Linked DNA regions of Homo sapiens. The protein of the gene in region 1 interacts with the protein of each later gene in a pairwise test. Each region holds a gene or a part of one and is shown in the gene's direction. Other genes may lie near its edges. The genes, in order: BMP10, KIR3DL1, DEXI, SLC10A1, FCRL4, MS4A3 and TNFSF8.

The links.
Region 2: the proteins of BMP10 (region 1) and KIR3DL1 interact in binary tests that used the Homo sapiens proteins (3 or more experiments, as listed by UniProt).
Region 3: the proteins of BMP10 (region 1) and DEXI interact in binary tests that used the Homo sapiens proteins (3 or more experiments, as listed by UniProt).
Region 4: the proteins of BMP10 (region 1) and SLC10A1 interact in binary tests that used the Homo sapiens proteins (3 or more experiments, as listed by UniProt).
Region 5: the proteins of BMP10 (region 1) and FCRL4 interact in binary tests that used the Homo sapiens proteins (3 or more experiments, as listed by UniProt).
Region 6: the proteins of BMP10 (region 1) and MS4A3 interact in binary tests that used the Homo sapiens proteins (3 or more experiments, as listed by UniProt).
Region 7: the proteins of BMP10 (region 1) and TNFSF8 interact in binary tests that used the Homo sapiens proteins (3 or more experiments, as listed by UniProt).

The regions. Positions count from the first base shown.
Region 1 is NC_000002.12:68,860,723-68,865,352, reverse strand, and holds the end of BMP10 (bone morphogenetic protein 10 preproprotein), read left to right. Parts: 3' UTR 1-4,444; downstream 4,445-4,630. UniProt on the Homo sapiens protein: Required for maintaining the proliferative activity of embryonic cardiomyocytes by preventing premature activation of the negative cell cycle regulator CDKN1C/p57KIP and maintaining the required expression levels of cardiogenic factors such as MEF2C and NKX2-5.
Region 2 is NC_000019.10:54,828,082-54,831,617, forward strand, and holds the end of KIR3DL1 (killer cell immunoglobulin-like receptor 3DL1 isoform 1 precursor), read left to right. Parts: intron 1-1,279; coding exon 1,280-1,384; intron 1,385-1,846; coding exon 1,847-1,899; intron 1,900-2,017; coding exon 2,018-2,194; 3' UTR 2,195-2,697; downstream 2,698-3,536. UniProt on the Homo sapiens protein: Receptor on natural killer (NK) cells for HLA Bw4 allele. Inhibits the activity of NK cells thus preventing cell lysis.
Region 3 is NC_000016.10:10,935,444-10,940,073, reverse strand, and holds part of DEXI (dexamethasone-induced protein), read left to right. Parts: intron 1-1,952; exon of another isoform or gene 1,953-3,441; intron 3,442-3,679; exon of another isoform or gene 3,680-4,630.
Region 4 is NC_000014.9:69,779,414-69,784,043, reverse strand, and holds part of SLC10A1 (hepatic sodium/bile acid cotransporter), read left to right. Parts: intron 1-4,630. UniProt on the Homo sapiens protein: As a major transporter of conjugated bile salts from plasma into the hepatocyte, it plays a key role in the enterohepatic circulation of bile salts necessary for the solubilization and absorption of dietary fat and fat-soluble vitamins.
Region 5 is NC_000001.11:157,580,757-157,585,386, reverse strand, and holds part of FCRL4 (Fc receptor-like protein 4 precursor), read left to right. Parts: intron 1-3,742; coding exon 3,743-3,856; intron 3,857-4,630. UniProt on the Homo sapiens protein: May function as an inhibitor of the B-cell receptor signaling. May function in the B-cell-mediated immune response.
Region 6 is NC_000011.10:60,062,507-60,067,136, forward strand, and holds part of MS4A3 (membrane-spanning 4-domains subfamily A member 3), read left to right. Parts: coding exon 1-99; intron 100-1,755; coding exon 1,756-1,812; intron 1,813-4,444; coding exon 4,445-4,606; intron 4,607-4,630. UniProt on the Homo sapiens protein: Hematopoietic modulator for the G1-S cell cycle transition. Modulates the level of phosphorylation of cyclin-dependent kinase 2 (CDK2) through its direct binding to cyclin-dependent kinase inhibitor 3 (CDKN3/KAP).
Region 7 is NC_000009.12:114,923,579-114,928,208, reverse strand, and holds part of TNFSF8 (tumor necrosis factor ligand superfamily member 8), read left to right. Parts: intron 1-4,630.

The DNA.
Region 1 (4,630 bases):
ATGTATATTTGTACATACATGAACTTACAAAAATCTTTTGGTTCTATGCAGGCAGGTTATACTCATCTACATGCATGACTCACTCAAATGTATGCATATTAAAGGCCAATGGTATGTTCTCTGTTACCTCTTCTCTGAGTAGGATTTAAGTCAAGATAATTGACATCAGGGTTTTAATCATCCTAGGAAGTATTACCCTTCCTAAATACTCTGGAAATGTAAGTGTAGCTTTTGTCAGTTGAGTTTCTGTAGTTGCTCAGAGAGGAGGGGCCTGGCAAAGGATGCTTGAAGGGAAGGGTTAATTGATACAGAAACCAAATGGACTTAAGAGGTCTTAGAGGTACAACAGGAAAAAATGAACCCATGGAGGACCAATGTGCTCCAGAGGGCAACTCCTGGTCAAGGCAGGAAAACAGAAGAAACCAGCATGAAATCTGTTCCTGAGACAATAGGAAAGCAAGGCCATGAGTACTGGCCATTGCTGCTGCAGAGAGTAGAGGGGTTGGGAGGGTACTTGAAGGGGAGAAAGGGAGAAAGGGAAGAGGATATTGATGTTATCCTCAGAGGCTATCCTCAGATGTGTCTGTAAAACCAAAAGTGGTTCTGTTTAAAGAATTAAATCTTTTGGACAAAATAGAAGTATCAAAGACTAAGAGGAGGAAAATCAGAAGGGGTCTGTCTGTTGGAAGAAAGGATGTTAATATCTTTCTTCACCTGTTAACACTGTTCCCTTGTCTCAGCACCCCTGCTTTCCTCTGCTCCATCTTCTTCCTTCCCTCTTTCTTCTTGGCCCTAGTGCCTCTCACCTTCCTCCCATCCCTGTGTCCCTGCTCTTCCCTGGCCTTCATGATGCATGCTGTGAACTGGAAAGGGACACCTAAGTGCCTTTGCTCTCAGGGTGAAAGGAGTTAGTGTTCTAATTTCTAAATCTTCCCGTGATATTTAATTTGATTTTATTTTAATAATATCCTTTATCAAATGTTTTGTTCATGAAGAATACTTAGATATAAGAGAAAAGAAAACCAGAATAAGTAAGTATAAGAAAAAGAAAACCAGAGTCCAAATGAATGGATTTAAATAAACGAATTTATGAATAGACACACAAGCAAATGACTCAAAAGCCAAGCCTGAATTTTGAAATCATGATTGTTTCATGGTAGAAACCCAGTAACTTTCCCATCTTCTCATCTTACCATCTTCCCATTTTGCAACTGGCCAGGACTGAAAGTGGTGAGGAAGTGTTCTGCACAGGAAGGGTCCGGTGGGTTTTCCTGGCAGGTGGCAGCCTCCAGTCTTAACCCCTAACCATTTCCCTCTACCTGGCAAGCATATTCTGGGCTTTGTGCAGGAGGAACCAGAGCAGAGCAGAGCAGTTTCCAAACTGTTCCAGCATCTCCAGGCAGGGAACATGGATGGTTCCTGTTAGAACCAGGAATGTGGTTTCCAGTACGTCATCCCCCATTCACCCCTACTCATCTTAAGGAATGCTTCCTTAAGAAGTCTGACACTTTTTTCTTTTTTTTACCCTGGAAAACAATCAGTCCCCTTTTACAAATCTCTTAAGGTTATAAACTCAAACTGCACTAGACAATAGAGGCAAGGAAAACTATTTTGAAGAAGGCCCAATTTGAACCTCAGCTCGCTAGATCTGTTGTCTGCTGGGTGAATCCTGGGGAATTCATTGCTCATGGAAGAGTGGTGTTTTGACCGTCAGTGGGTATACAGTGATTGATGCTTTGAGAAAGCCATGCAACTCAGAATCACTATTTGTGGAACAGCCTCCATATAACATGATGTGTGTATGTGTGTGTGATGTATAGCTGGCTTTGAATAACCACGCTTAATACCCTCAGTGGAACGTGGTGCATCCTTCATACTCCATGGTACACAATGTATACTCACATACTCCAAGGTACTTCTTATCCTTTCTAAAGGACACTGTAATACATACACAGTAAAACCTCAGCTGACCAGGATAGTCCTGGTTAGATAAAAATTAAGCAAATTTTCTTTATGTCTAATACATATGACAGTGGTGTGCTGGTAAAACCCTTACAACCAGCAATCCAGGGGGAGAAAAAGCCCTGATTTGTGGATTTCAATGCTGCAAACGCTCCTACATGGTCTATCTTGAGCTGCCAAGGTGATGTCAACTGGCTTGCAAAACTTCTAAAACCTAAGTCAGCTCTTGGGAGCTGTGCACTGGTGCTGGCACACCGCTGACATTTAGTATCCCACTGACATTAGCACACCGCTGACATTAGCACCCTGATACTAGAATGTTAAGGATGTGCCAGCCCTGCTTTCCACTGTGTGCGCTGCTGGCTCCGGGCTTCTGGAGAAATCTTGTCTCGAGCACTTATAGTCACTCTTCTGTTAAAGAGATATGAAAATATAGGCTGTTGGCGATCAGGCTGCATAGCCCAGTTGTTTCTTTCTGCCCATCCAGATGTAAACCTGCATTTCTATGATTTTCTGCTTCCCTGTGGAAAGGGAGTGCAGAGAGCAACATATTGTTATTCAAATGTTGCTAGTTGTATTTTTTTGGCTTTTTGTCAGAAAGTGAAAAGACACAGCCCGTAGAGGAGTTCTCCCAGCTCCCACCGGAACCCCGGCAGCACACCGGTGTCACTTTCAACTCCTGCATTGACAGGAAGCCAGAATATTGTCAGATCCTTAAAAAGGTAGAATCTTACTAATGTTTCTCTGGTCATAGACCTTCTTCTGGGTCCCATGCCAGTTTTTTTCCCCCTTTTATTGCAGAATTATCATCACCGAAGTTGATATAGCTAAACAACTCTTGAGGAGAATTATAGCAGAGGGACTTGGGCAGCCCACAGCCAAAATATTCATGTAAGAGTTTCTAGGCTTCCCACTATTTATTGATTGATATATTTATTTTTGTAAAATATTGTAGAATACCAAATATTTTATTTTTATGTCTGTGATTCCCTTTTGGATAGAGAGTCTTCTGGGCTTCAGAGTATGGCTCACATATAATATATGGCCTGTATTTCCATCTCTCTCTTTTTGCATCAGAATATTCTATTGGTTTAAGGAATCTTGCCATAGCTTGCCATAATTTTGTATATTTGTGTCTTGCAGGCATGCTGTGCCTACAAGCATGCTTTGTAGTATATTTTCTGATTTGTAAATAGTACAGTTTTAACTGAAGTGTAGATGTTCCAGGAAATATTTAACCAATACATTGTCATGCAGTTTCATAAAGTGATGTTGTCAGTTTATCATGAGAAGCAAATATTGTCAGGCTGTGAGAGAATGTGATTGCTACTCAGTAAACGGAGATGCTATTTAAATGAATCTTTTCATCCCCCAAATCTGGTACTTCCCCTCTGAATTCACCTGTTGCCGTCACTGACCCAGAAATTCAGAGATGTGATTGGTCAAATTCATTTGTAATTGGACCAATTACTTTGTAAATGTCAAAAATGTTAGCTTAGTGATTTCCAAAAGAGTCAGCCCCAAAGTGCCGAATTCTTTCCTGATGTGTAAATTTTGGTCCGGGGAATTAATGACAAAAACCTTTTTTTTTTAAGAACTGTTACTAAATGTTTCAGTATTTGTTATGATTTATATTCTTCAAGTAAAAGATATTTTCATATAAGAGAATTTTATGTATTCTTCTTACTTGATTCATCAACAGATTATGAAGCCTAGCAGTGTTCTGGCAAAACCTTTTTAACTTGCCTAGAACACAGAAGGGATGTTGCCCTTTTTAAGGTTGTAGATCTTTTCAGAGTCACTGTGGGTCATTCTCAACCCTTTGCAGTTCTGCAAGCTCACATATGGTGCAAGAGGAAATGCTGGTATGACTCTGTGCATTTTCTTGCCCCCAAACAGGAACAGTTGATTTCCTACATTAAATGGAAGGTAGATGTGACTATGGAAGAGAAGTACACAGGGGTGTTTCTGCATGTGAAATATTTGTCATAAGTTAAAAACCCATCATGGAATAACTGTTTGTTGTGATCAGCATGTTTTTATCACACATGGGCACTGGTTTTGTGAGCACCTGGCTTGATAGTGGTGGGGCGGCCAATGTGCCAGCGCCCGCCTACTGAGCATTCATGGACATTGGAAATCAGCGAACACCACAGACACACCGAATCAGCTGATGCACGGTCATGTTCTGGGGTAAAACCTGTTCATTATCCATGTCCACATTTGTATAGTTATCACTAGACTAAAATGAAGATGGAAATAAATATTTTACCCTGTGTTCATGAACCAAATGTGTACCTTCAGAGTCTTTTTAAGTAAAATAAAAAAATTATTTTGGTGATAATTATTTGCAGCTTATTTTTCCTTGAGGTAAGGTATTTAATTTTGCACACTCCCCACTTTTTCATGTTTCTACTTGATAACATATCCCGATGGAATAAAACTAATTGCTATATTAATAAAGAATGGTCTGAAGAAACCATAAGTTGTTTTTGGCTTGTAACTGACCTCAGTAGGGAGTGGGATTTTGTAGCTCCATGGTTCTCCCACTTTATATGACTTTGTGTAATTCCCATTAATGCCACAGGCATTCACAGAAAATACAATTGGCTCCCTTTTGTCAGTAGCTGGGAAATATTTCTTCTTTGAATACCAAAGGAGGCAGTTT
Region 2 (3,536 bases), on another chromosome or scaffold:
GTGGTCCTTCCCCCAGCCTCTGAGGTAGAACAGCAGCCTAACATGTGTCTCCCGAGATCACAAAGAGTAGCACATTTCACACGGGCTTCAACACTATTTTCTGGCTGTTTGACATAAGAGAATTCTACTTCGCTTTTTTTATATTGATTTCACTTTTGTTTCCTTTTCTTGGAGAATGCAAGTTGTTTAACTCAAGAATGCCGTGGATGTAGAAATCCTAAAGCACATTCGCTGTGTATCAATCCCAGTCCAGTCTTCCCAGAGAAGACTCTAAACACCTCCTGGACTGCACCTGGGCCTATGCCAATTCCTATCACTCACCGTCACTCCAGGGAGACAGAACACACAGAGAATACGTTACATAGGCAGGTTCATTACTAACAGATAAGCAGCGAGTGACAACAGAAGCCTACATTTCAATGTGAGCCAGTTCCCCAAGGCTCAGAAAAGCTGCTCGAGACATGTGGAGTCACCCCATTTGCAGTGTAGCTGGGGGAAGCCAGAAAGCAGCCCAGCCTGGGTTTTGTACCCTGGAGCCACAGGAAGCACTCAGCTAAAGCACTGCATGACGTCCTCCTCCAGGAAGAACAGGAAGACAGCCCAGGCTGTTCTGGGACAATCCTCCTGATCTCAGGACTTTGCTGTCTTAGTCCATTTTTGTTGCTCTAAAGGAACACTTGAGCCTGGGTAACTTCTAAAGAAGAGATTGGTTTGCCTCACCGTTCTGCAGGCTGTACTGGAAGCATGGCACCAGCATCTATTTCTTATGATGGCCTCAGGCCGCTCCCACTCTGGCAGAAGGGAAGGAGGGTCTGTCTGTGCAGAGACCACAGAGATCACACGGCAAGAGAGGGAGCAAGGGGGAGGGGGAGCAATGGAGCTTCCAAGCTCTTTTTAACAACCAGCTCTCCAGGAACTAATAGAGAGGGAACTTGCTAACCCCGTCTCCTTGGGACAGCATTGATCTGTTCATGATGGATCCACCTCCATGACCCAAACACCTCCCAAGAGGCCCAACCTCCCACACTGGGGGTTAAATTTCAATGTGAGGTTTGAAGGGGTCAAACATCTCAACTAAAGTAGTTGTATCCTCAGCACGTTCCATGGTTACTATGAGAGCTATAACTGAGAAAGCAGGAGGAAGCTAGATCTCCCGCCATCTGGGTGCTTGTCCGAAAGAGATGCTGTAAGTGGTTACCTGTCAATCAAGAAATGCAAGACAATTCATATAGAGAAACTGCTATGATTAGCTTCTTACTGGTGTCTCCTCTTCTTCCAGGTAACCCCAGACACCTGCACATTCTGATTGGGACCTCAGTGGTCATCATCCTCTTCATCCTCCTCCTCTTCTTTCTCCTTCATCTCTGGTGCTCCAACAAAAAAAGTAAGTCTCACGGGGCACAGGCCAGAGAGCTCAGGGCCATGTGGGGAAGCAGGATGGGAGCACACAGCTGTGTGTTCCTCACTGGCAGGATGGTCCCTGGCCCAAGACAGGAGCCACAGAGGCAGGACTTTCTAGAGAGAGCACCAGACTCCCTGCCCCTGCCTTCAGCTCACAGACCGTTGCCTGATTCTGAACTGTATCCTCATGTCCCCTGCAGCCACTCACATCCAGGAGAAGGTTCCATGACAGGCAGAAAGTGGGAGACAGAATCAATGGGATGGGAACTCAGAGCTATTCATGGGATGGGTCCTTGAGCTCAGAGAGATAGAATGTCTGAGTCTGCTGTTGGCAACTGAGGGACCTCAGGCACCTATGGCCTCCCCCTGTTTGTTGGTATCTGCTTATGAAATGAGGACCCAGAAGTGCCCTCCGAGCTCTTTTGTTGACTTCCGTCTCCTACAGATGCTGCTGTAATGGACCAAGAGCCTGCAGGGAACAGAACAGCCAACAGCGAGGTAGGTGCTCCTCGGCCCAGCCTCGTGGCTAGTGTTATTCCCAAACAGTCCTGGAAAACGTGAGCACCCTCCCTCACTCAGCATTTCCCTCCCTCACTCAGCATTTCCCTCTCTCCAGGACTCTGATGAACAAGACCCTGAGGAGGTGACATACGCACAGTTGGATCACTGCGTTTTCACACAGAGAAAAATCACTCGCCCTTCTCAGAGGCCCAAGACACCCCCTACAGATACCATCTTGTACACGGAACTTCCAAATGCTAAGCCCAGATCCAAAGTTGTCTCCTGCCCATGAGCACCACAGTCAGGCCTTGAGGACGTCTTCTAGGGAGACAACAGCCCTGTCTCAAAACCGAGTTGCCAGCTCCCATGTACCAGCAGCTGGAATCTGAAGGCGTGAGTCTTCATCTTAGGGCATCGCTCCTCCTCACGCCACAAATCTGGTGCCTCTCTCTTGCTTACAAATGTCTAGGTCCCCACTGCCTGCTGGAAAGAAAACACACTCCTTTGCTTAGCCCACAGTTCTCCATTTCACTTGACCCCTGCCCACCTCTCCAACCTAACTGGCTTACTTCCTAGTCTACTTGAGGCTGCAATCACACTGAGGAACTCACAATTCCAAACATACAAGAGGCTCCCTCTTGACGTGGCACTTACCCACGTGCTGTTCCACCTTCCCTCATGCTGTTTCACCTTTCTTCGGACTATTTTCCAGCCTTCTGTCAGCAGTGAAACTTATAAAATTTTTTGTGATTTCAATGTAGCTGTCTCCTCTTCAAATAAACATGTCTGCCCTCATTGCTTCAGGTAATGTGACACTGTATTCGCTGAAAGAAACCGCTGTTATCATTACCATGTCCACATAACCCCATCTGTTCTCCGCTGGGTTCTCACCCCTGGACTCTGAGCTTCTGGAAGCAGGGTGGAGCCTCATTTGTCTCTGGGACTCCAATTTCCATCCAAAGATGCAGCACATAGGAGGTTCCAAGGATCGTGAATCACATGAACAAGTGATATTCTTACTCTCTGCAACCTGGAAAGCTGGCAGAGTCATTCCACGATGAAACATTTGTAGAGTCATAAGCCTTGCTAGTCTCATCTCCACGGGGACACATATCAACACATCATATTTCATACTATAAATATACAGTCGCTCCTCCATATCTGTGGGGTTTACAGGTGTTTATTGAACCAAGTGTAAATCAAAAATATTCAGAGAAAATGTCCACAAAGTTTCAAAATGCAAAACTATGTTGAATGGACACAAATGAGGCAGTGTGTAGGCTGTATCAGGAATTATAAGTAATCAAGAGATGATTTCATGTATACAGGAGGATGTGCATGGGTTATATCCAAATGCTGTGTCATTTTATGTAAGAGGCTTGAGCATCTGCAGATTTTGGTACCTGAGTGGAGATCCTGAAACCAATCACCCACGAATAGTAAAGGATGACCGTATATGACTTTTATTTCTCAATTTTAAATATAAATCATAAAAAATGTACAATAACTAGATAAAAAGTAAGAAGTGTTTTTATAGTGTGAGAATAAGTTTAGATTTATTTTTTCCTACGTGTAACCCTTTGGTTTAATATTATTTATTAAGAAGACATTCTATGCCACCTTAAACCACACGG
Region 3 (4,630 bases), on another chromosome or scaffold:
GAAAAAGCTTCAGTTGAGCTCAGTAACATCTTAGCGAGAACCAAGTGCCAGGGGGAGTGTGTGCCAGGTGCTCTGCACACCTCCCCAGCCTGCCTGCCTGCCTGCCATCCATCCGTCCGTTCTTTTACAGAATGAATGCTTGTTGGTTCAGTACAGTGCCTGGTGATTGAACACAGTGAACAAGACAGACCAAGCCTTGGCCCTTTGGCACTTGGTGAGGAAGACTAGTAGGAACCCAAACAAGAGAATCAGATTTTTTCGGAACTATGAAGGCAGGCAAGAAGGACATGAGCTTCCCTGTTGTGTTCACTGCCATGTCCTCAACACTTAAAACTGTGCCTGGCCTCTAGTAGACGGTCTCTGTAGGTGTAGACATGGAGTGAAACAGAAGTGAAACGGTAGGATAGAGATGGTGGGCTGCTTTAGCTGAGGGGTCAGAGAAAGCCTCTCTAAGGAGATGATGCTTTTGAGCTGAGCCTTAATTTGATAGAAGGATCTGGAGAAAAGCAGTCCAGGCTGAGGGAATCAGTGGTGCCAAGACCTTCAGGTGAGAGAGAGTTGGTTTTTCCGCAACCAAAAGGAGGCCCATGTGGCTGGAGAACAGCCCCAGGAAAGGTCAGTGAGGTGGGTGGGAGCCATACCATGGAGGACCTGGAAGGCCATAGCCAAGAGCAGTGGAAAGCCATTGGAAGGTTCTAGGCAGGAGATGACACAATCCCATTCCCATTTTGCAAAAATGACTCTGGCAATTGTGGACAGAATGAGCTGAGGGGTAAGAGGGGAAGCAGGGCCACCACCTCAGATGCTGTTAGTTGTCCAGGCCAGAGGTGACAGAGGCTTGGATGAGGGGAGTTTAGTGAAGATAGAGAAACATGAACAGACTGAGAACAACTCTCAAAAGTAGAACCTATGGAATCCATTCAAAATCTGTACTGAGCATTGATTGTATCGCACTCCTGTGTCTAGGCCCTTTGCATATGCACTCACTCATTCAACAGACTTTGACCCTGCCTGCTCTTCTGCCAGGCCGTGTGCTAAGGGCCTGCGATCCCAAGATAAATCCCTGTCTCCAAGCCAAGCATTTGACTTTGAAGCAGTGTAACTTGGTGAGGAACGTCTTATTTTATCTCTTTACCACATCAACAGAAACACTTCCCCTTCCAAATGAAAACATTGGCATATTCTGAACTAAAAACTGAATCCCAAATGCTTCGACATATTTTGCAGCAAACGCTGTTTAAGCAGAAACACCAGGAAATATCTCTCAGGGACACCCTTGCAAAGCTCTCGGGGTGTCAGGGCCTGACCCTGGGAAGTGGGGAGGCCTGGAGAAGTGGTGGAAGCCATGCACAGCCTTCCCTCCTCCCCACCCTCAAATCCAAGCCAAGGAGGCCTTGCCCCCAAGTGCCGAGGAAGCTCAGAACCCCAGGGTATGAGAGGGGTAGCTAGCAGCAGGGAAGCCGCCAGGAAAGACCTCAAGATGATCTGACCGAGCCTCATCTCCAGGCCCCTTTCCATAAGCAGGGGAACGCCGGTAGTCAGTCCTGCTCTTTCTCAGCCATTCTCATGTGGTCACATGTGTTCCCCACACGCCAATCCAGGAAACAGTGACTAAGGGCGTGGAGCATGTCACACAGTGGGGCCCAGGATGAATCTCAAGATGAACAGGTGCACCTACTTTTGCTCCCTCTTTTTTTTTTTTTTCTCTTATGTGTGGACCCACATAATTCAGTTCCTCAAACATTTGCTGAGCACCTACTTGAGGAGGCAGTATTAGGGTCATGGTTAAGAGCCAGGGCCCTGGGTTCACATCCCAGGGTAGCTGTGACCTTGGGCATGCTGCTTAACCTCCCTGTACTTTGGTTTCCTCTTCTAGAAGATGGAAATAATGAAAATCTCCCTTGTTGTGAGGATTAGGTGAGATATACATAAAGCACTTAGATCTCCTTGTATATAGTAAGAGATGTATTAATATTAACCACTCATATTCATAGTCGGATACAATGGAAAGCGTGTTATACCCATGCCCTTGCAAATGTACAAACCTGCACCTATACTCATGCATGAATATTTATATCCTGTGAGCAGAAGAGGACAGGCTGCCTGAGTGCCAGGGAGGTCCAGGTCTAGCCTAGCTGGGGGAGACTTCCCACTCTGCCTTCCCAGCCCCAGGACCCTTAGGAGAACTTTCTTGCTGCCCTGTGGTCCCCAGGGCACCAGAACCCTGGATAGCCGGCTCTGTGGTTTTCCTAGAGTGTTAATTGTTGCCCAGGAGCAGGGAATGGGGAATCGGGAGCTCCCTCCTTCCCAGGAGAAAGGGCTGCAGTGGCTGGCCTGGGAGCCAGGGAGAGTCTTCACGTCCCAGCAGTTCTGGTGCAGAGGCAGCTCAGTTGGATTATTCGTCCCGGTTCCTAATGAAAGTGAAAGCTGCTGGTACCTGCCAGCCCTCTCTTGGCACACAGCGAGCTGAAAATGCAGAGACTGGAGAACGTTGCCACCAGAGTCAGCTTGTCCTGGTGCAGCTCAGATTTGGAGCTGAGGGTTATCGATGCATTGGTCTATCTTATTCCAGGATTTCCTAGGCTTCAGTTATCTCCCAACTAGGAACCACAGCTGCTCCTTCCTAACCTGGTCCCTCCTTGCCAATCTGTGGCCTGTGCTATCAGCAGAACCCCTGTGCCGGACATAGAGCTGCCCAGGTCAGAAACCCAAACCTTCCACAGGGACACAGTCAGATTTGAGTTATGGGAGATCCCACAGCCAGGGGTCAGGGCGGATGCAGGAAACCAGGCCAGGAAGCTGTGGCTGTCATCTAAGCAAGAGACAGACAATGGTGACACAGGGAGGCAAGTATACCCCCAGGCCTGGCCACCTCTCCAGCTCTGCTCCTGACATGAGGCTCACCCAGAAGGTCCTTGGCCATAGGGTACATTGGTGCCAGCTGCGTCTTCAGACAGGAGAAAACCCCAGTATGTGTCTCAAGACAGTGAGATGTCAAGAGTCCTGCTCTCTTAGCCCTGAATTATACAAACTGGAGATTTCAGCCAAGAAACAGGCAGGGTCTGCCCCACTTACAGCTCATGTGTCTGTTTTGCCGAACTAAGAAAGTGAGGGCTTCTCTCAATTTGGATATTCATATTTCTGGTTTATCTGCTAGCTTTCCTCCCAGAACTTCTGAAAGCATACTCGGCTTTTGGGAAACCTAAGATCACAATAAAAGTGGCAGACCTCTTTATCCCTGTCTCACAAATAAATGGAGGCACAGAATGGGGAAGTGGAGGCCGAGGGAACAAAGCCAACTAAGACTGCCAGCCCGGTTCCCTGGCCACAGCACTGAGGGTTTGAGGGGTGCCTCCAGTGAGGGCTCCCCATCCCCGACCTTGGAACACCAGCTCATAGTTTCTGCCAGGCCTATTTCATACGCACTCTTCCAACTTTTTCCTGAATTAAAAACAAACAAACAAACAAAAACCTCTGTTATGAAGTAATTTCACACTTACAGAAAAGTTGCAAGAGCACAAACAATGCCCGCCCAAACTCACCAGTTGCACCAGTTAGCACTTTGCTCATGTACACGTGCATGCTCTTCCCTCTGTTTGTATATGCATGCCTGTGTATATGCACACATGTGTATATGTGTAATTTTCATAAGCATTTGAAAATGGGTTCATTATGCACCTTTACTCCTAAATAATTCAGTATTTATTTCCTTAGAACAAGGACAAATTTGCATAACCACAGTAGGGTTGTCAAAATCAGCAAATCTAATATTGATACACTATACAATCCTATGACCAATCTCATCTACAACTTTATTCAAATTTTATAGAGGCTGAGGTGGAAGGATCACTTGAGTTTGAAACCAGCCTGGGCAACATAGTGAGACCCCGTCTCTACAAAAAGTAGGAAAAAAAAAATAGCGAGGTGTTGTGGTACACGCCCATAGTCCCAGTTACTCGGAAGGCTCAGGCAGGAGGATTGCTTGAGTCCGGGAGTTCAAGGCTGCAGTGAGTTATTATTCCACCACTGCACTCCAGCCTGGGTGACTGAGCGAGACCCTGTCTCAAAACGAAAAAAAAAAAAAATTGTCCCAGTAGTGTCCCTTAACAATAAAAAGGGGAGAGTTGAGGTCCAAGATGCAATCCCAGATCAGCTTTTGCATTAATCTCGAGCCTTCTTCAGTCTGGATCAGCTCTTCAGTCTGTCTTTCTCTCTTGTGACATTGACATATTAAGCAGAGTACAAGGCTGGTGTTTTGTAAACTGTCTCTCAATTTGGGTTTGTCTGATGGTTATACTCGAGATTAGATTCAGATGAGGCATTCTTGGCAGGAATATTGCAGAAGTGAGTGTGTGTCTTCAGTGCATCTTATCGAGAGGCACATGCCATCTGTCCCCTTTCTGGCGATGTTAACTTTGATCAGTTGGTGAAGGTGGTGTCTGCCAGGTCTCTCCACTGTCAAGTTACTATTATTCCCTTTATAATTTGCAGTTTAAGATGAAATGCACTAGTTTTAGTGCTTCATCTGTAAAACTACTTTTTTATGTGAATTTATTTTTTAAAAAATGTCTGTCACTAAAGAGAAAATCATCATCGCTTGGCATGGATAAAAACACTAACTGCCAAAGTC
Region 4 (4,630 bases), on another chromosome or scaffold:
CTATCCTCACTCCAGAATCCATTTATTATCTACCAGGTCTTTCTATCTGAATATACCTCAGACATTTAAAACTCAATATATGTTAAAGTCATCTCCTCCCCATGTGGTTATCTCAGTCGGTGGCACTGTGTGTGTGCCCAGTTGCCCCAACCAGAAACTGGAAGTCATTCTCAATGTTCCCTTCTCCCTCACCACTCACACCCATCTAATCAATGACTGTCGATTCCACCTTCTGTTGCTGGAATCCATTCATTCCTCTCTATCCTTACCTCTCACTAGACAACTCAAATGGCCTTCTCATCCAACCTCCTCACCCAGTTCTAACCTGAGGGTGAAGATGTGAAGTACAAACTCTATCATGTCACTCCACTGCTTAAAGCCTCTCATTGACTCCTTCCCCCTAGGATAGTTTAAACTCCTTAATGTGGCACTTCTTGATTTGGTTTCAACTGACCTCACCAGTCTCAGCTCTTTTCTCTTTGCACGTGCCCTTCTCTTCACCTGGAACACTCTTCTTCCCAATTCTCACCCCACTCACCATCTTTCACTGGATCACTCCCACTCATCCTTTAAGTCTCAACACAAATAGCGCCTCCCCCAGGAAGCCTTCCTTAACCTCCTAAGCCTGAGTAAGATGCTTGTCCTATTCACTCCCATAACACCCAACACTCCAGCTAACCCCTGTAGCAATTATTACACTGCATTAAGAACATCTGTTCATTTTTATTCCCCACTCATTTATCAAGAAGCAAGACCATAAGGCTGTCTTAATTAACACTGAATCCACAGCACCTATCACAGTGCCCCCATAGCTAATGCCTGAGAATAAATAAAGGAATGAAGGGCAAGTCCTGTCTGCTGCTCTTCCACACACCAGCAGAAAAACAACATACACAGAGAAACATGTTTGTGTGCATCATTTCATTTTTTTAAGATAGTTTGTGGGGTGCATAAGATTGCTTTTTTAAAAAATCCTATACACCCATAAACGATCTTAAAGAAATGCATATAAAATATAAAGAATATTAAAATGTGAAGTGACCACTGCTATCATTTAATGCTACTCTGCCCTCCTCCATTTTATAGGTGGGAAAACTGGGAAACAGAATACCAAGTCATAGTGCTAATGACAACTGATGTGAGAACATGTCTCTTTTCTACCTCAGAGTAGCTTTAAAAGTGTTTCTCTGAGGTTGCAAAAAGCAGAATCTCAGACCCTTTTTTTTTTTTTTTTTCGAGACGGAGTCTCACTCTGTCGCCCAGGTTGGAGTGCAGTGGCGCGAGCTCGGCTCACTGCAAGCTCCACCTCCCGAGTTCACACCATTCTCCTGCCTCAGCCTCCTGAGTAGCTGGGACTACAGGCGCCCGCCACCATACCCGGATAATTTTTTGTATTTTTTAGTAAAGACGGGGTTTCACCGTGTTAGCCAGGATGGTCCCGATCTCCCGACCTTGTGATCTCCCCGCCTTGGCCTCCCGAAGTGCTGGGATTACAGGCGTGAGCCACCACACCTTGCCGAGAATCTCAGATCTTAAAGCTGGAGAAGCCTTTAAGATGAAGTTCAGTCTCCTGCCTTATTCCCAATTTGCAGATAGAGTAACCGAGGCCCGGAAAAGTTACTTGGCAGAGCCAGGATTATTTCAACCAGTCTGTTCCTGTTGTGTTGCACATTCACTACTCAATGCCACAGACGAAATGAAGTCAAAATGAAGCCAGAGAACATTAAAAGGGCTAAGAAATACCTTGGCTGGAAAAACAGAGACTAGTAATAAGGGACTACATAAAAGGTAATCTAAAAAACCCAGGCATGCCCTGGACCCATTTTGCCCCTGGCTAAACCTCCAGGGTTAAACCACCACAAAGTCAACAGCTACACTGATCTTCCTATATTCCAAAACTGGAATCACTCCTGTGAGGATGCAGAGACTAACATGTGGGTCAAGCTGCAAAAGCTAAGGTTTCCTTGCTTCTATGGCTCTTCGAGGACTATGCTCATCCTTCGTCACCCTGTCCCATAAATAATATAGTGAGTGCCAAACTGGAAAACGAACAAATGATTGTCCTAGCCTCTTACGCACACATAACCCTCCTTGGACCTTGCAAATCAAAATAACCCAACTTTCAATAACTAGCTCTGGCAGCAGGTATCTGCTCACACCGGGTTCAACCAGTTGCATTCGCTGGTGGAAGGTCACATTTAGATATACCAAGATACAATTTCAGGCATGCTCATTTTAAAAGGCAATTCAAGTAATTTTTAACTTACCCATGCAAGGGTTTATCCAAAGGCTATGTGGCTAAAAGGGTGATGAATCTGAGAATGACATGGTCCAGGAGCCACTTTCACCATAAGCCATCCACCACTCTTTAATAAGGATCCCACCATTTCATTGACTCAACACTCTACTCATGCATTTCCCACACCTGCTGCTACTGCTGAACTGACCCCTAACTCTCCTTTGTCTTACAACTTCTGCCAACTTGTGGCTATTGCTCCCAGACCTCTGTTCTGACACTTGTCCCTGCTATTGCTTCCCTCTCTGTAATCCTGCAAACTTCCTAAATGAGAGAATCTGATTATTTCTACCACTCACCAGCCTGTGCGGGCCACCTTTGTGGGTAGACTGTGGACATGTCATCTCATGTGTAAGCCAATGGATTGGCTGCCCATGAATGAGCACTCATCCCAGTTGTGAGCAGGGCAATGAAGTCAGGTGGTACAAAATGTGGTAGCCTATGGAGAAGCAACTACCCGGGGCCACTTGTCTCAGCAGGAGACAGGGGTTGTAGACAGGATAAATTTCCAGAGATGGCAGCAGTGAGAGTGACAGGAACCTCTAGAATGTTAATTCCTCCCCTTTGAGTAATAACAGGAGTTACAGTTTAGTGAGCGGTTCTTATATGCCAGGTCCTATGCCGTCAACCTCACTCAGGTTGAGTGACTCCCCAGAGCTTACACACCTGGAGACTAGCAGAGGCAGCTTTCCCACCAGGATCATATCAAATTATGTGCTCATAACCACAACTGTGCAGTCCCCAAGAGTCAGAGAACATGAGTGAGAGAATAAGAGTGAATGCCTATACAGAAGAAGAGGGCTTCTGGATTCGTGGACAATTCCTGTAACTCAATGTCTCCTACATTATCCACTCCACTCTTGATAGAGATTAAAAATTATTTGACTGTTGGGTAAAGGACAAATTCGAAAGACAGAAATCTAAAAGGGGAAATCAACTAAAAATGCAAAGGTAAACTGAGAAGTTCATTAGCTAATAAGTCTTTTAATAAAACTTGAAGCACATGGTTATTCAAGAGATGTGTGAAAGTCCTTCCTATGCTGGGATAGGACCACTAATTGGTATAGGTGATGTTTTATATGATCATATCAGTTGCAACAAGTATTAAAAACAGAAACACAAAGCTGTGCAGCTGAAATTTGAGCAATATAAATGTTAAAATGTCGTTAGGACATTATGAATGTACTTAATGCCACTGAACTGTACACTCAAAAGTGATTAAAATGGCAAACTTTGCTATACATATTTTACTTTTTTAAAATGTTACTAGGAAATATAAAATGCAACACATGTGAATGAACCAAAAAATGAACCAACACATGTAACTATTACAAAATAACATGGTAAGTTTGAGAAAAGTTAAGTATTTCTTTACTCAGGAGATAAAAGGGACAGTCTTAAATTTACACATACCTGTTTATCATTTTGGAGGACGCAATTCTCTAAAATGCACACTGGAAAGTACAAAGTGCATGGAGTGCACATGCACTTTGAAAGGTTGCATCCTATGTTGCACAATGAAAAACCCTATAATTTCATTCAGAGTAGACCTGCATAGTTTCCAATGATGTTGTTATCACCCAAGATATTTCTGAAAGTTCTTTTGGGAACTTCCTTCATATTCAATTTGCAGGTCACTCAAGAAAGTAGGTTTGTCCCCTTATTATTAGACATCATTTTGGGTTTAAAACCGTATTTCCGGGCTTGATCATCCACCTTGTTTACCAGCTTTGTTTCAAATGACTCTTGGCAATTTCCAGAATTGATCCTAAAATGGATAAAATCCCTATCTGTAATCAAGGTATTTGAGACAAATATGTATGACAAGTTCTCATGAGTTTCAAAGTATGTGGAACAATGACAGTATTGTAGGAATGTGTATATAAGTTCCAAAAATACTTGACTTTTAAATAATATCCATTTTGCAGGAGTCCTGAATAGCCTCACGTAACACTTCACTGAAAGTCTGCTATCCAGAGATGTGTCAAAAGCAGTAACTGTGCTTGGCTGAGTTTGTAATAATCAAAGTGTTAATCAGCTGTCCCCAAGCTTCCTAGCTACTGATACGAAATCTAAAAAGATGGGCTGGGTGCAGTGGCTCACACCTGTAATCCCAGCACTTTGGAAGGCCAAGGCAGGAGGACCGCTAAGAGTCCAGGAGTAAGACCAGCCTGGGCAACATAGTAAGACCCTGTCTCTAATGTTAATAATTTTAAAAAAATTTAAAGAAAGGAATCCAAAAAGAAGATAAAGGTCTTTCATATTCCTTTCCACTTCCAGTGTTTTATTGCAATGTTTCCCACCTCCAATTTCTACCTGTGCTTCCCCACCTCT
Region 5 (4,630 bases), on another chromosome or scaffold:
GAAAGAAAGAAAGAAAGAAAGAAAGAAAGAAAGAAAGAAAGAGAGAGAGAAAGAAAGAGAGAAGGAAGGAAGGAAAGGAGGAAAGAGAAAGAAAGAAAGAGGGAAAGGAAGGAAAGGAAGGAAAGAAAGGAAAGAAAGGAAAGGAAAGAAAGGAAAGAGGAAAGAAAGGAAGAATCTAGCTTTTATTAAGTTACTGGAAAGCTAGATTTCCCTGCTTTTCTATACAATAAAACTCCTCAATTCACTCTCCTTACCTCCCTGATTTTTTCTTAAACCCATCACCACCAGGCTTGCCTCACTCCACCAAAATTACTAATGATCTCCATATTTCTAAGGCCAGTGGAAAACTGTTCCCATTTGATTTGACCTACCTCCAGCTTTTGATACAATTGATCCCTCCCTCCTTCTTGAAACATTTTCCTGCTCAATTTCTGGGACATAACCTGTTAGTATTCTATCTATTCAGCAGATACTTTTTTAAAGTTTTCTTTCCAGATCCTTATAATATTTCCAACTTCTAAATTTTGGGGACTGCTCCCCAAAAACAGCTGCACTGTTTATACAAAGTCAGCTCTGACGGTCAAAGCCATAAACCTGAACAGTTTAGTCAGAGGCTCCAGCAAGGGGTTGCTATGCGAATGGCCCAGATGCGGCTCAACTTTCCCTTCAACTCCCTTGAGGCAAGTCTTATGATCAAGCAGGGCCCACCAGGTTAAGAGACTGAGGTGTTTCCCCAGAACTAAGTACCACAGCAATCTGCATCTCAGTCTGGGAACATCACTGGGTGTAATTCCCAGCAGAGAAGGACTGAGACTGAGCTAATGTCATTTCAATGACTTTTTTTTTTTTTTAAGATGGGGTCTCTCTCTGTTGTCCAGAGTGGAGTTCAGTGGCGTGATCTTGGCTCACTGCAGCCTTGACCTTCTGGGTTCAAGCGATCCTCCCACCTCAGCCTCTCAAATAGCTGGGACTACAGGCATGTGCCACCATGGCCAGCTATTTTTTTTTTAATTTATTTTTCATAGAGAAAGGTTCTCACTACGTTGCCCAGTCTGGTCTTGAATTCCAGGGCTCAATGGCATTTCAAGAATCAGATTAGGGGAGAGGAAGAAGGGATTAGCAAAACTGCAAGCTGCCAAGGGCTCCCTCGAAAGACTCCTGAATGCCCTGAAATCCAGAGTAACACTGATGGTAGAGGGTGTTTCTTCTGCAGGAAGGCTCTTATTCTGAAAAGTTTACCTCAGGAAGTTCAAAGATTATAATCTCTGAGGAGATAACAGTGAATCTGTTGGTAAGTATAAATTATTCCTCTTCCTTTTGGGGGTTAAGATCATCAGAATGGATCAGCTTCTCCTGATCCAGGCAGTGAACTGGCCACTTCACATGTATCATTTCATTTTATTCTCATGACAGCCCTGGAAAGCAGGTGTCAACATCTGTTAAGGAAACAGATGATCTCAAAGATTAAACAAACGTCAAGGATCCAGTGATGTTTGCTGGAATAGGGATTCCCTCCTAAATATTTTTTAATCATGGACTTTATGCAAAATCCCCGTGCTTAGAAATAGGAGAATATATAGCAAAGAGAGAAACTCTGCAGTAGCCTCATGCACTGGGCTAAGGTGGGCTGTCTCAGGCAGCTTGAACTGCCATAACCAAACACCAGGGACTGGGGAGCTTAAAAAACAGAAATCTATTTCCTCATAGTTCTGGAGGCTGGAAGTCTGGGATTAGTGCACTAATATAATTTGGATTCTTGTGAGGGCTCTCTTTCTGGCTTACAGAAGGCTACCTGCTTGCTGTGTCCTTACATGGCAGAGAGAGAGAGCAGCACAACCTTTCTGGTGTTTCTTCTTAGAAGGGCACTAATCCTATCTTTGGGGCCCCACCCTCATGATTTCATCTAAATCTGATTACCTCTCAAAGGCCCTGTCTCCAAATACCATCACATTGGGGTTAGAGCTTCAGCGTATGAATCTGGGGGAGAAGGGCACAAATCAATCCATAGCATGGACTGAGGATGTCTGGGGTAGGGCTGTGTGGGAGCAGGCTTAACCTATGGAGGTGTCCTCTAAGCTAATCAGAGAGCAGCCTGAATTTCCTGAGAGTCTAGGGCATGGTGTCAGGACCACAAAATATGAACTAGTATTTCCCTAGACGTAACACTTAAGTGGCAGGCACTGTTCAAAGCACTTTACATGTATTAACTCATTTACAACAGTAAATAGGAAACTGAGGCAAAGGGAGATTAAATAATTTTCCCTGCCCACACAGTGAGTAAGTTGAGGAGCTGGGATTCTAATCCAACAACCTGGATTTAGAATCTGTGCCTTTCTAACTGAGACAAAATTTCAATTACTTTCCCCAAAGTAGCCATTTCTTTTAGGAAATAGGGTTACCAGGAAGGTAGAGTAACTTGCTTTCTGCCCTTTGAGTCTAGAATCCTAGGCCTGGGTGTGGCTGATTCTGATTTTGCACCGGCGGATGCCCCAGCAGGCAATGGGGAAAGATTCAATACAGGATGTAGTGGCCAAGCCTCTCTGTCCTTAGATTTCTGTCCTGCTCTCCACCGTACTCTTTCAGCTGTTGTGGCTGGGAAGCTGGGCTGGCTGTCCACTGAATACTGTTTATTAGTGGAACCACTCATAGGTCAAAGGGCAGGTTTGTTGATATTGTTGAGGAGGGAAGGATAATATCAGAAATGTCACCAGCCACTCCTAGCCAATGGCTCCTCTGTGCCCAAAATCATAGATGAAAATAAACGGAAATCATGATCAGTGTTGCTGTTGTTCTACTACCTGCATGTTCTCTGTCAATTCTGTGGTACCTGTGTCTGAGGTCTGAATTTGGTTTACCTGGGGACCAAGAATACATATGGGAAAGTACCACGCCCCACTCTCCACTCTCTGTCCCTCTGTCATGCTTTTTGCTCTTTAGCGCATCACTACAGGGCACGGTATAAATTTATTTATTTGTTTATGGCTTGTCTCCCCTCCCTGGGTTATAAACTCAAGAGCCGGGACTTTAACGTCTTGTTCACTCTTGGGTCTTCAAGGGTTAGGTCAATGCCCAGCACAGGGCAGCCTCAGTAAATATTTGTTGTATAAATAAGTAAATTGAATGAAACCTCCTTTTCCGTGGATGAAAGGATAGGAGAACGGACCCCATGGAAATATCAAAAGCCCCTAACAATTTATTGATTATGTGTACTTTTCCATCCGTTTTTTTCTCTCCTGCCCTTCAGAGCACACAGGCACAGGCTTCTATGAGGAAGGAGGCTGATGCCATTTCATCGTGGTGTCCCAATGCGGAGCAATCTCAGAGTTACTGTTGGTTCAACTGGTGCCATAATCAGTGGTGCAATTTTCATTCTCTCTCAGGCAGTTTGCTGTTCCTAAGTTAGGTGCTGCCAAGCCATGATCCCACAGTATCTCTCCAGGTGTCTGGGGGCAATTTGCAGGAAGCCAGCTTACCAGAATACAACATTAGGATTTCCCCTAAATTGTTAGTTTCTAAAATGATTCACTGAAGGTAGAGGGAGCTGCTGTTTCCTCTTGCACTCAGGCCCTGGCCCACCCAATGTGAGCTTTTCTGGCCAAAACCTGGCCCAAGATGTCTTTATGAGACCTAGTCCTTTAGATTTTTCTCTCTTCCAGGGCTCGTTACCCAACCAAGCTGAGGAAAAGGCAATCCCAAACCCTGAACCTCTCCACTGAGATTCACACAGGTCCTTTCCCCTTAGAGACCCCAGGCAACAGAGATGGCCTTGTCGCCGCGGGAGCCACTGGAGGGCTGCTCAGTGCTCTTCTCCTGGCTGTGGCCCTGCTGTTTCACTGCTGGCGTCGGAGGAAGTCAGGTTTGTGCTCTTTTCTTTGCCACAGTTCCTGCCCTGTTCCTTCCCCTGAACTCAGCATGCAGACAGCCTTAGTGGCCACCAGGCCACCACTCCCAAGTCTCCACTCCCAAGTCTCCACTCCCAGCGTTCACACACACTCACGTCCGTCCCTTCCTTAAGGGGCAGTTTTGCAAACAGAAGCCATGAATGAGAGCTGCTCATATCTAGTCTGATTGGCTAAGTCTCAGTGAAGGGGAGGAAGAGTGAAATTTTTAATGTAAAGTTCCAAAAACTTTATCTGAACAGTTTACTTAGGCAGTTTCTTTGGTTCATATAGACTGGCCAGTTAGATACTTCAGCCTATCCTAAATCCACCATAAATGGAGATTCAGAATGAACTAAAGGCTCTGCAGAAATGATTGAGAATAAGAGCTGGCTAATTTTATCCTTCTGTCCCCTCAGGGGCTTTTCTGGGTCTGGCTTTTCAGGGGCTTTTCTGAGCAGGCTTGAGCCTGCCATCTGGTGCTCCAGTGGCCCCTCTCTCCTCAGGTCAGCCTCCCCTGCCTCTTGGAGATGGTCTGTCCCAGGCACTGTTTGCTGCGTGCTTCCAAAGACTTCTTGCCTCAGCCCACCTCAGGCTGGCTTTAGATGCCAAGAAACCTGGTGTAGAAGACAGGAGCAGAACCTTTTTCAGCTCTAGAATAATTACCCACATCCTTCAACTCTGTCTCTTAATTCAATTCAACTTTCCAGATTCCTGACAGCACCTTCTGTGTGTCCTGCATTGAACTGGAG
Region 6 (4,630 bases), on another chromosome or scaffold:
GGTGTCTTTCTGGGTTCCTTGCAATACCCATACCACTTCCAAAAGCACTTCTTTTTCTTCACCTTCTACACAGGCTACCCGATTTGGGGTGCTGTGTTTGTGAGTATTCGTACTCCCCTGGCTATATGTTATTTCTTAGATACCACTGCTGGAGATGTGTTTGATGACAAAAATATTGTTTGTAGGTTATTGGAAGGTTGCATGCTGTGGTTTTGATTTGCAATTCTTGATATAAACAATTAGAGACGATAAACTCTTTTTTATTTTTTAATTTAATTAATTACTTAATTAATTTATTTTTTGAGACAAAGTCTCGATCTGCCATCCAGGCTGGAGTGCAGTGGCATGATCTCTGCCCACTGAAACCCTCTGCCTCCCCAGTTCAAGTGATTCTCTTGCCTCAGTCTCCTGAGTGGCTGGGATTACAGGCATGCACCACCATGCCCACCTAATTTTTGTTTTTGTATTTTTAGTAGAGACAGGGATTCACCATGTTTTCCAGGATGGTCTCGAACTCCTGACCACAAGTGGTCCTCCCAGCTTGGCCTCCCAAAATGCTGGAATTGCCAGGCATGAGCCCTGATGCCAGGCCAAAAATCTCTTTCTGATTAAGAGAAACCACATTTGCCAAGTACAAATGAAGTCCTAAAAATTATCTTATATATAACTATATGTTACATTTATAGATACTTAAAAAATTGAATGAAAAATGGGTATTGATGAATTGCCTTGTGGTACAGCAGAGAGTCCTGGCTTGAGAGTTAAGAAATTTGTCTGCTGATTACTGTCTGAAAGTCAGAAGAATCATTTCCATTATCTGGGTCAACATTCAATCAGAAGAAATAGGGGTGATTTTAAAATGTATTCATTCAGTTTTGATTATTTATTACTTCCCTGATGGTTCATTTTTAAAAAGTGAATGATATGTTTGTTGGCCATTTGTATATCTTCTTTTGAGAATTGTCTATTCATGTCCTTAGCCCATTTTTTGATGGGATTGTTTGTTTATTTCTTGGTGATTTGTTTGGGTTCATTGCAGATTCTGGATATTAGTCCTTTGTTAGATGTATAGATTGTGAAGATTTTCTCCCACTCTATGGGTTGTCTGTTTACTCTGCTGACTGTTCCTTTTGCCGTGCAAAAGCTCCTTAGTTTAATTAGGTCCCAGCTATTTATCTTTGATTTTATTGCATTTGTTTTTGGCTTCTTCGTCATTAAATCCTTGCATAAGCCATTATCCTAAGTGAAGTAACTCAGGAGTGGAAAATCAAACATCATATGTTCTCACTTATAAGCGGGAGCTAAGCTATGAGGATGCAAAGGCATAAGAATGACACAATGGACTTTGGGGACTCAGGGGGAAAGGTGGGAAGGAGGTGAGGGATAAAAGGCTACAAATTGTGTGCAGTGTATACTGTTTGGGTGATGGGTGCACCAAAATCTCACAAATTACCACTAAAGAACTTATCCATGTAACCAAACACCACCTGTTCCCCAATAACGTATGGAAATAAAAAAAATTTAAAAAATAAAATGAATAAAACTAATTGCATGGAAAGACTAAATAAATAAATAAATAAATAAATAAATAAATAAAGTGAGCAGCATCAAGTACAATTCTGTGTCCTAGGATGTGAATTTAAAAGGGAGGTTTGTATGACTATTGCTGGATATCTGCTAATTGAGGGAGGACCAAGAAGAAAATGGTTGAGACTTAATATTCCTTTATCTGTTTTCCTTCCTATTTTCAAACAGTTCTGTAGTTCAGGAACCTTGTCTGTTGTAGCAGGGATAAAACCCACAAGAACATGGGTAAGTAGCACTTCCTCTTTTTCTATGATCAGAGGAGTAGAAATATATTATTCATAAACAGTAGGACAGTAAGTGTCCATGAATACAACTGAGACACTGAGTATCATTTAATGCACAAAATATTAGTTTTCTTAACGTGTTCAGATGGTAGGTCAGCAGATCACATACATTGTGAGGATGCATTCCTGGGATGCTTGCTCTTAATATTGGTGAACTTGAAGCTTAGAAAAAGTCTTCTTGATTTTTATGTGTTGTCAAGTTTGACCAATTCTAATTATTTGGAAGTAAGAACTCCCACCACTAACTAGTTTGACAACTGAAAGTCCAAACTTCTATTCTAAACAACTGCTAAGTCTCTATGATGTGTTCTTAGTGAGTCACGTAGCCACTGATACTCCACTTTCCTACTCCATTCATTCACTTTCCCTCCTCCATGGATAGCTATTTTACCATTTTATTGTATCCTCAAACACCAATCCCACTTCTGTCATCCTTACTCTCTGCTGATGATTTTTCTGTCTCTTCTGAGAAAACTGAAGCCATTAGAAGGGAATTTTCAGACCTCCACTACTAATGGACTAGATCTGTACCAATGTATTTTTTTCTTCTAGCCTCTTACCATAGGAAAATTTTGTGATTTTCTTTAAAGCTGATCTCCCTACTTGAGTATAAGATTCCATTCTTTTTTTCCCCACACAAGTGCATCACTTTAATTTTTGTCTCTCTGCTATATATATATTTTTCGAGTCTCACTCTGTCACCCAGATGGGAGTGCAGTGGTGTGGTCACAGCTCACTACAGCCTCCACCTTCCAGGGCTCATGCAATCCTCCCACCTCAGCCTCTCACATAGCTGGGACTACAGGTGTGTGCCACCATCCCTGGCTAATTTTTGTCTTTTTTTTTTTTTTTTTTGTAGAGACAGGATCTTGCCATGTTGCCCAGGCTGGTCTCAAAATCTTGGGCTCAAGCAGTCCTCCTGCCTCAGCCTCCCAAAAGGCTGGGGTTACAGGCGTGAGTTACCTTGCCCCATCTCTAATCAGCATGTAAACATCCAGTTACTGTTCTCAACTTAAAAACAAAACAAAACAAAACAAAACAAGAAAACCTTGACATTATTTCTCCCTGCTAGGGACAGGCACAATTTGTATTTTCCTTCTGTAGCTAAACTCCTTCAAAGGAATCATCATGTTCTTTCTCTGATTTCCATCTACCGGTTTGAATCAAACCCACTTCAATAAGACTTTATTTTATTCCCTACTATCCTTCTGTAACTGCTGTCTTTAAGATCACTGAAAACTTCCACCCTGCTAAAACAACGGTCAACTCTTGTTCCTCATCTAACTTAAGCTATGAGTAGCATTTAGCATAGTTAGTCGCCCACTCCTCCTTCCAGGAATTTCCTCACTTGGCTTCCAGCATACATTGCTTGGCTGGTTTTCCTCCCATCTTTTGCTTTCTCCATCTCAGTCTCCTTTCCTGGTTCCTCTCCTTGTCTCTGACCTTTTAATGTTCTGGTGCCCCAGAGCTGAATTCTTTGCCACCTGCTCTTCTCAATCTATACGTACTTCTTCTGTGATCTCACACATTCTTATGACTTCAAGTAATATCTGTATGCCCACAACCCTGAAATAAGTATTTCCAGCCCAGGTGTCTCTCCTGATCATCAGACTGGCATGTAAAGATCCAAAGCTCAACTCCCAGTCTTCTTCCTCAAACCTTCTCCTCATGTCAGCTGATGGGAATGTCATCCTTCCAGATTCCCAGACCAAACACCTTAGAATAACCAAGAGTCTTCTTTCTTTCACAATCCTGAATCCTATTTATCAGCAAATAATGTTGGCTCTACTTTCAAGCTATTATTATATCCAGTTTTGACCTTTTCTTATCTTTCTATTGATGACATTTCATCCAATCCACCTTGTCTCTCCTAATTGGGCTTCTAGCTTTTATCGTTGAACTTCTCTTTGCCTTGCTAGAAACAGTGATCCCTTGAAACCATAAAGCCAAGTATATCATTTATTTGCTCCAAATCCTTCATTGGCTTTGTATTTTTCTTAGAGTTAGAAACAAGTTCCTTTTCATGATCTGCAGAGCCCCACATGATTTGGCTCTCTGTTAACTTTCCTTCTTCTTCATTTCCTAGTATTGACTACGTGCCTCCAACGCCCTTGACCCCTTTGCTGCCCCAGAAGATTCTGGCCTCAGGATTTTGAGTGTTTCCCTAATTTCAAGGATATTCCCCCAGATATCCTCCTGGCTGGCACCCACAGCTCTTTCATGCCTCTCCCCAGTGTCATTTCTATTTAATATCATGAACCCCCACTCCTCTCTTTGGATTCCCAGATTCTCCTTATCCCATTCTGTTAGCCCCTAGTACTTAATCACTTTCAAAAATATTATGTAATTTACCTATAGTATGTTTACTTTTTTCTTTGTTTTTATTGCTAGAATATAAGCTCCATGGAGGGTGGGGGACAGAAATCTTTCTTTGGTCATTGATGTTAGCCTCGCATCTAGGATATCAGTGGGTGTGTAAACAATATTCAATCAATGTTTGTTTCAATGAATTGTTGCCAAAGGAATGAAGTACGTGCTGCATATATTAATTGAAAATTCTTATTCTTTTTTAGATACAGAACAGTTTTGGAATGAACATTGCCAGTGCTACAATTGCACTAGTGGGGACTGCTTTTCTCTCACTAAATATAGCAGTTAATATCCAGTCATTAAGGAGTTGTCACTCTTCATCAGAGTCACCGGACCTATGCAATTACATGGGCTCCATATCAAATGTATGTTTCTGAAAAATATGTATA
Region 7 (4,630 bases), on another chromosome or scaffold:
CATCCACTTCCTTGACTTACCCCTCATGTTTGGATATGAAAAGATTCACTGTGCAATCTGATTGTACAGTGCGGTGTGCTGTGATTTCTTAGACCAGGAAATATCAGTTGCTTCCTTAAAATTAAGGCTTGCCATGTTAATAGTAGCCGTGGTATATAAAGTGTCAAATGCATTGCACATATCATTTTCAATAAATTCCTCAGACCTTAACTGTTGTAAGACCTAACAAGAAAAAAAAAAGCATCATTTTCCCATTAACTTGAGTTATCAGGAAGGGTTTCCTATAGGAAGATGGAATGTAGACTGACTTGAAAACAGGAAGAACTCAGACAAGTGAAGAGACTCTAAAAGAAACTCTAGGAAAGAAATCAATGGGAGAAAGCCAAGGAGCTTAGACTCACATCACCATTATTAAAAATGGAATGAGTTAATGGTCAATTAGCACTCTGTATGTGATGGGAACAGGGGTGGAGAACCATAAGAATGGTTTTACTGGCACAAGAAGTCACACAATTCTTATCCCAAGGCACGTGTATAGACAAAATTTAAAACAGCTAAGTCATAACATATAATGAGTGATTAAAGGGATACCATGACACCACAAGTTAAGGAGAGAATATATTTTTCCAGACAGGTTTAAGAAAAACTCCTGGGGATTAGTTTCAGGTTGGCTTGAGAAATGTGAACAATTTCAAACAGGCAGGGAAGGGAAAGCAGAGGAGAGGCACTCCTAGCCAATGGAACAGCATGAGCAAAGAGACAGAGGAGAGAAGACAGAGAAAGTGTAGGGAAATCAACAAAGCTTGCCTTGAGGTTTGACTTGAAGATCAGATAACTCCAAGCTTAAACTCCTTGGGAGAGACAAAGGAGGAACTTAGGTTTCTATCTCAAATATTTATTAAATATCTACTGTGTGCAGGACATTGTTCTAAAGCCTTGAAAAAAAACAACAAAATCCCTGTCTTTGAGTTACTATGGAACTTACTTCTTTCCTGTGATATTTTTGAAGCCTCAGTGGTGGTTGTATTTTGTTTTATTTACATTTAAGCCAGCATATTTATAAAATAAATACTATTTTATATAATAATATTACTTTATATTATAAAATAAACATTTTATATTATAAATATATTATAAAATAAACATTTTATATTATAAATATATTATAAAATAAACATTTTATGTTATAAATATATTATAAAATAAACATTTTATATTATAAATATTATATTATAAAATAATATTTTATGTTATTTAATATTTTATAATATATTGATATATTTTATAATATTTATATTAGGAAATACTATACTTACATGGTTTAAGAAAAGTAACTAGCAAATAAGAGAAAAGAAAGTAAAAATCTTCACACCTTCCCCACCCAACCACTAATCCCTCTTCACGGAGATAACCACCATTGACAGATTCTTGTGTGTCCTTCCAAAAATCTGTGCATCTACAAATACACAGTACACATTATAATATATAATAAACCCATGGGTCATTATAATAAACCCATAATTTTGCATCTTGCTTTATTCACTTGACAACACACTGTATATCTTAGAGATCCTTCCATGTCAGTACATAGAAGTTCATTTCATTCTTTTGAAGAGTCGCATAGTACGAAGTGTAAATGCTTCATAATTTATCTGTGCCTGGTGAGAGACATCAATGTTTTCTCTAGAATTTGTGCCCTCTGTGCGTGTCTGCAAGTATATCTGGGGAATAAATTTTTAGTGATAGGAATGGAATGTGCATTTTCTTTTTTTCTTTTTTTGGAGACAGTCTCGCTCTGTCGCCCAGGCTGGAGTGCAGTGGCGCGATCTCTGCTCACTGCAAGCTCCGCCTCCCGGATTCCCCCCATTCTCCTGCCTCAGTCTCCCGAGTAGCTGGAACTACAGGTGCCCGCCACCACGCCTGGCTAATTTTTTTGTATTTTTAGTAGAGACGGGGTTTCACCGTGTTAGCCAGGAGGAATGTGCATTTTCGCTTCAATAAATGTCAGTCTGTCTCCAAAGAGATTGTACTAGTGTACCCCTGAGGAATTAAAAGTCCTACCAACAGACACTTCTTTACATCAATATGGAAAGAAAAAAATGATTTACTGTTGAGCAAGCACAATTGTACATGCAAATAGGCAGCCTGCAACAGACTACAAAGTCAGGATGAAATTTCACACAATTAATCTAGCAAAGCAAAAGAAGAAAAAATAAAACTTCTCTTATCTCCTCAAGAGACAGGGGAATACATAATGAGATAGACAATGAGATAGACTCCTAGGTTAACACCACAGGTAGGTGTTTACATTTCAAAAAGCCTCTGAAGCCCTCAACCTTAGAGACGTCTTTGTTTTGTAAACCAGGAGACTGGGCTTCTCTAGCCCCAGGGGAGAATGTAAAGGGTTACATTCCAAAAGGTTGGAGTATAGGGTTCACAATCGGTAGGCTTTCAAGAAAGAAGCTGCCTCTTTTCCCTTTATAAGCAAAAAAAATTCTTTTTTTAAAAATAATAATAATAATACTCTTTTTAAATTATCTCCACACCAACAGTGGAGCTGAGCACCTGTTTAAGGGGAGTAATTATTGGTGGTGGTGATGGTGGTGTGGTATTTTGGGTTTATTTTTAAGCTCAGATACAAAATAGAAGTGTAGGGTAAACACACCTGATATAGCAATAACTGAAGCATACCCTTAGAATAACCACATATGGCAGACACGTCTGAATGGGTGTTCCAAGCTAGAGAGTCCAGGAGTGGTCAACCTGGAGACTCATTCCTTGTCTGTGAGGAACATCTGAGCCCCCAGCCCATCCCGTGGAACATGGGCCATACAGGAGATTGAGGCCTGAGTTTTTGGTTACATGAAGGCTGCCAGGTGGAGGCCATTAAGGGGAGGCTGTTAAGTGAGCATGCTATAGAAACTGCATGCTATTTGCAAGTGGTTGTGGTTTTCCTGCCCAACCCACCACCACTGGACGGTATATAAGGTGAATATGTTGTCCAGCCTGCTGCCATGAGATCATTTCTGTCCGTAAAGCAGTTTTCCTGTTCAGCTCACTGCCACTGGACTCTCTCCCCTGTATGTAAGCCCCCAATAAAACCCCACATCTTGTTTGCTGACTCTACACCTCTTCTTTAGCCTCTTGAACATGGTGCCTTCCCTGTTGAGCTAATAGGAGTTCGGCACAAGAAGAAGTTATTTGGAATGCCCCATGACACTTCCCACTACCCAAGGTACTCCCTCCACCTGACATTCATTCCATTTAGCAATCCAGAAAAATCCACTGTAAATCTTCCCAGGAGCGAGCCCTGTGTGAGGTTATGTGGGGAGGTCCCCAGTGGAAGGGGCAAGACCCTGTCTTCTGGGAACTCTGTTAAATTGAGCAGATGAAGCCCAAACACCAAGTTCTTGGGTTCCGGGCAGAATGGCACAGAATGCCACAGAGCAAAGGAGAAGTCATTTCTGCTTGGGATGAAGGAGGAGTTTGTAGAAGAGCTAGAACAAAAGCCAGGCTTCCAAGAATTACAACAGTCATGGCTTATTCCCAAAGTCTTATTTTGAAAATGTTCAAACCTACAGAAAAGTGGAATGGCAAATGCTAATATAACCTTGGCACCTAGATTGCTGTGTCAATATCTTGCTGTATTTTTGCTCTCTCTATATAAGGATATGAAAGTAAGCTGGAGGCAGCATGACCTTTCACTCACATGTACTTCAGTACCCATCTCTTAACTAACTGCAATGCCATTATCATTGCCAAGAGAGTTAATATTAATTCAATAATATCATCTAATAATAATATATGGTCCATATTTTAATTTCTTTACTTGTTCAAAAATGTCTTATAGGTATGGCTGTTGTGTTTTTGTTTGTTTGAACCAATCTAGGGTCACATACTGTGTTATGATAATATCTGTTTTAATCTAGAACTTTGCTTTTTAAAGTGTGGTCCTGGGCCTTGTTAGAAATTCAAAATCTCAGGGCTCACCCCAGATCTCCTGAATCCGAATCTGCATTTTAACAAGCTCCTCAGGTGATCTGTATGCACATTAAAGTTTGAGAAGCACCGAGCTAAAATCTCCTTTGCCCTTTGGTGTTTGTTTTAAATAACATTGACCTTTTTTTAAAGGGTCCAGGCCAATTCTGTTGTAGAAATCCATTCATAGCCTGGATTTGTCTTAGTATTAACTCATGGTTATACTCAGATGAAACATTTTTAGTAAGAATAGTATATAGGTAATTCTATATACGTCTTATTGTAGCACAGCTAGAGACATATGTCAGGTTGTCCCATTTTTTTTGACTATAGGTTTAGTCACTTGATTAAAGCGGTGACCACCAACTATCGCCTTTGTAAAACATTTTTTCTTTCTCATTAACAAGTAATCTGGCCAGGAGCAGTGGCTCATGCCTGTAATCCCAACACTTTGGGAGGCAAAGGTGTGTGGATCACTTGAGGCCAGGATTTCAAGACCAGGCTGGCCAACATGGCGAAATCCTGTCTCTACAAAAAATACTAAAATTAGCCGGATGTGGTGGCACACACCTGTAGTCCCAGCTACTAGGGAGGCTGAGGCAGGAGAATCTCTTGAACCCAGGAGGCCAAGGTTGCAGTGAACAGAGATGGC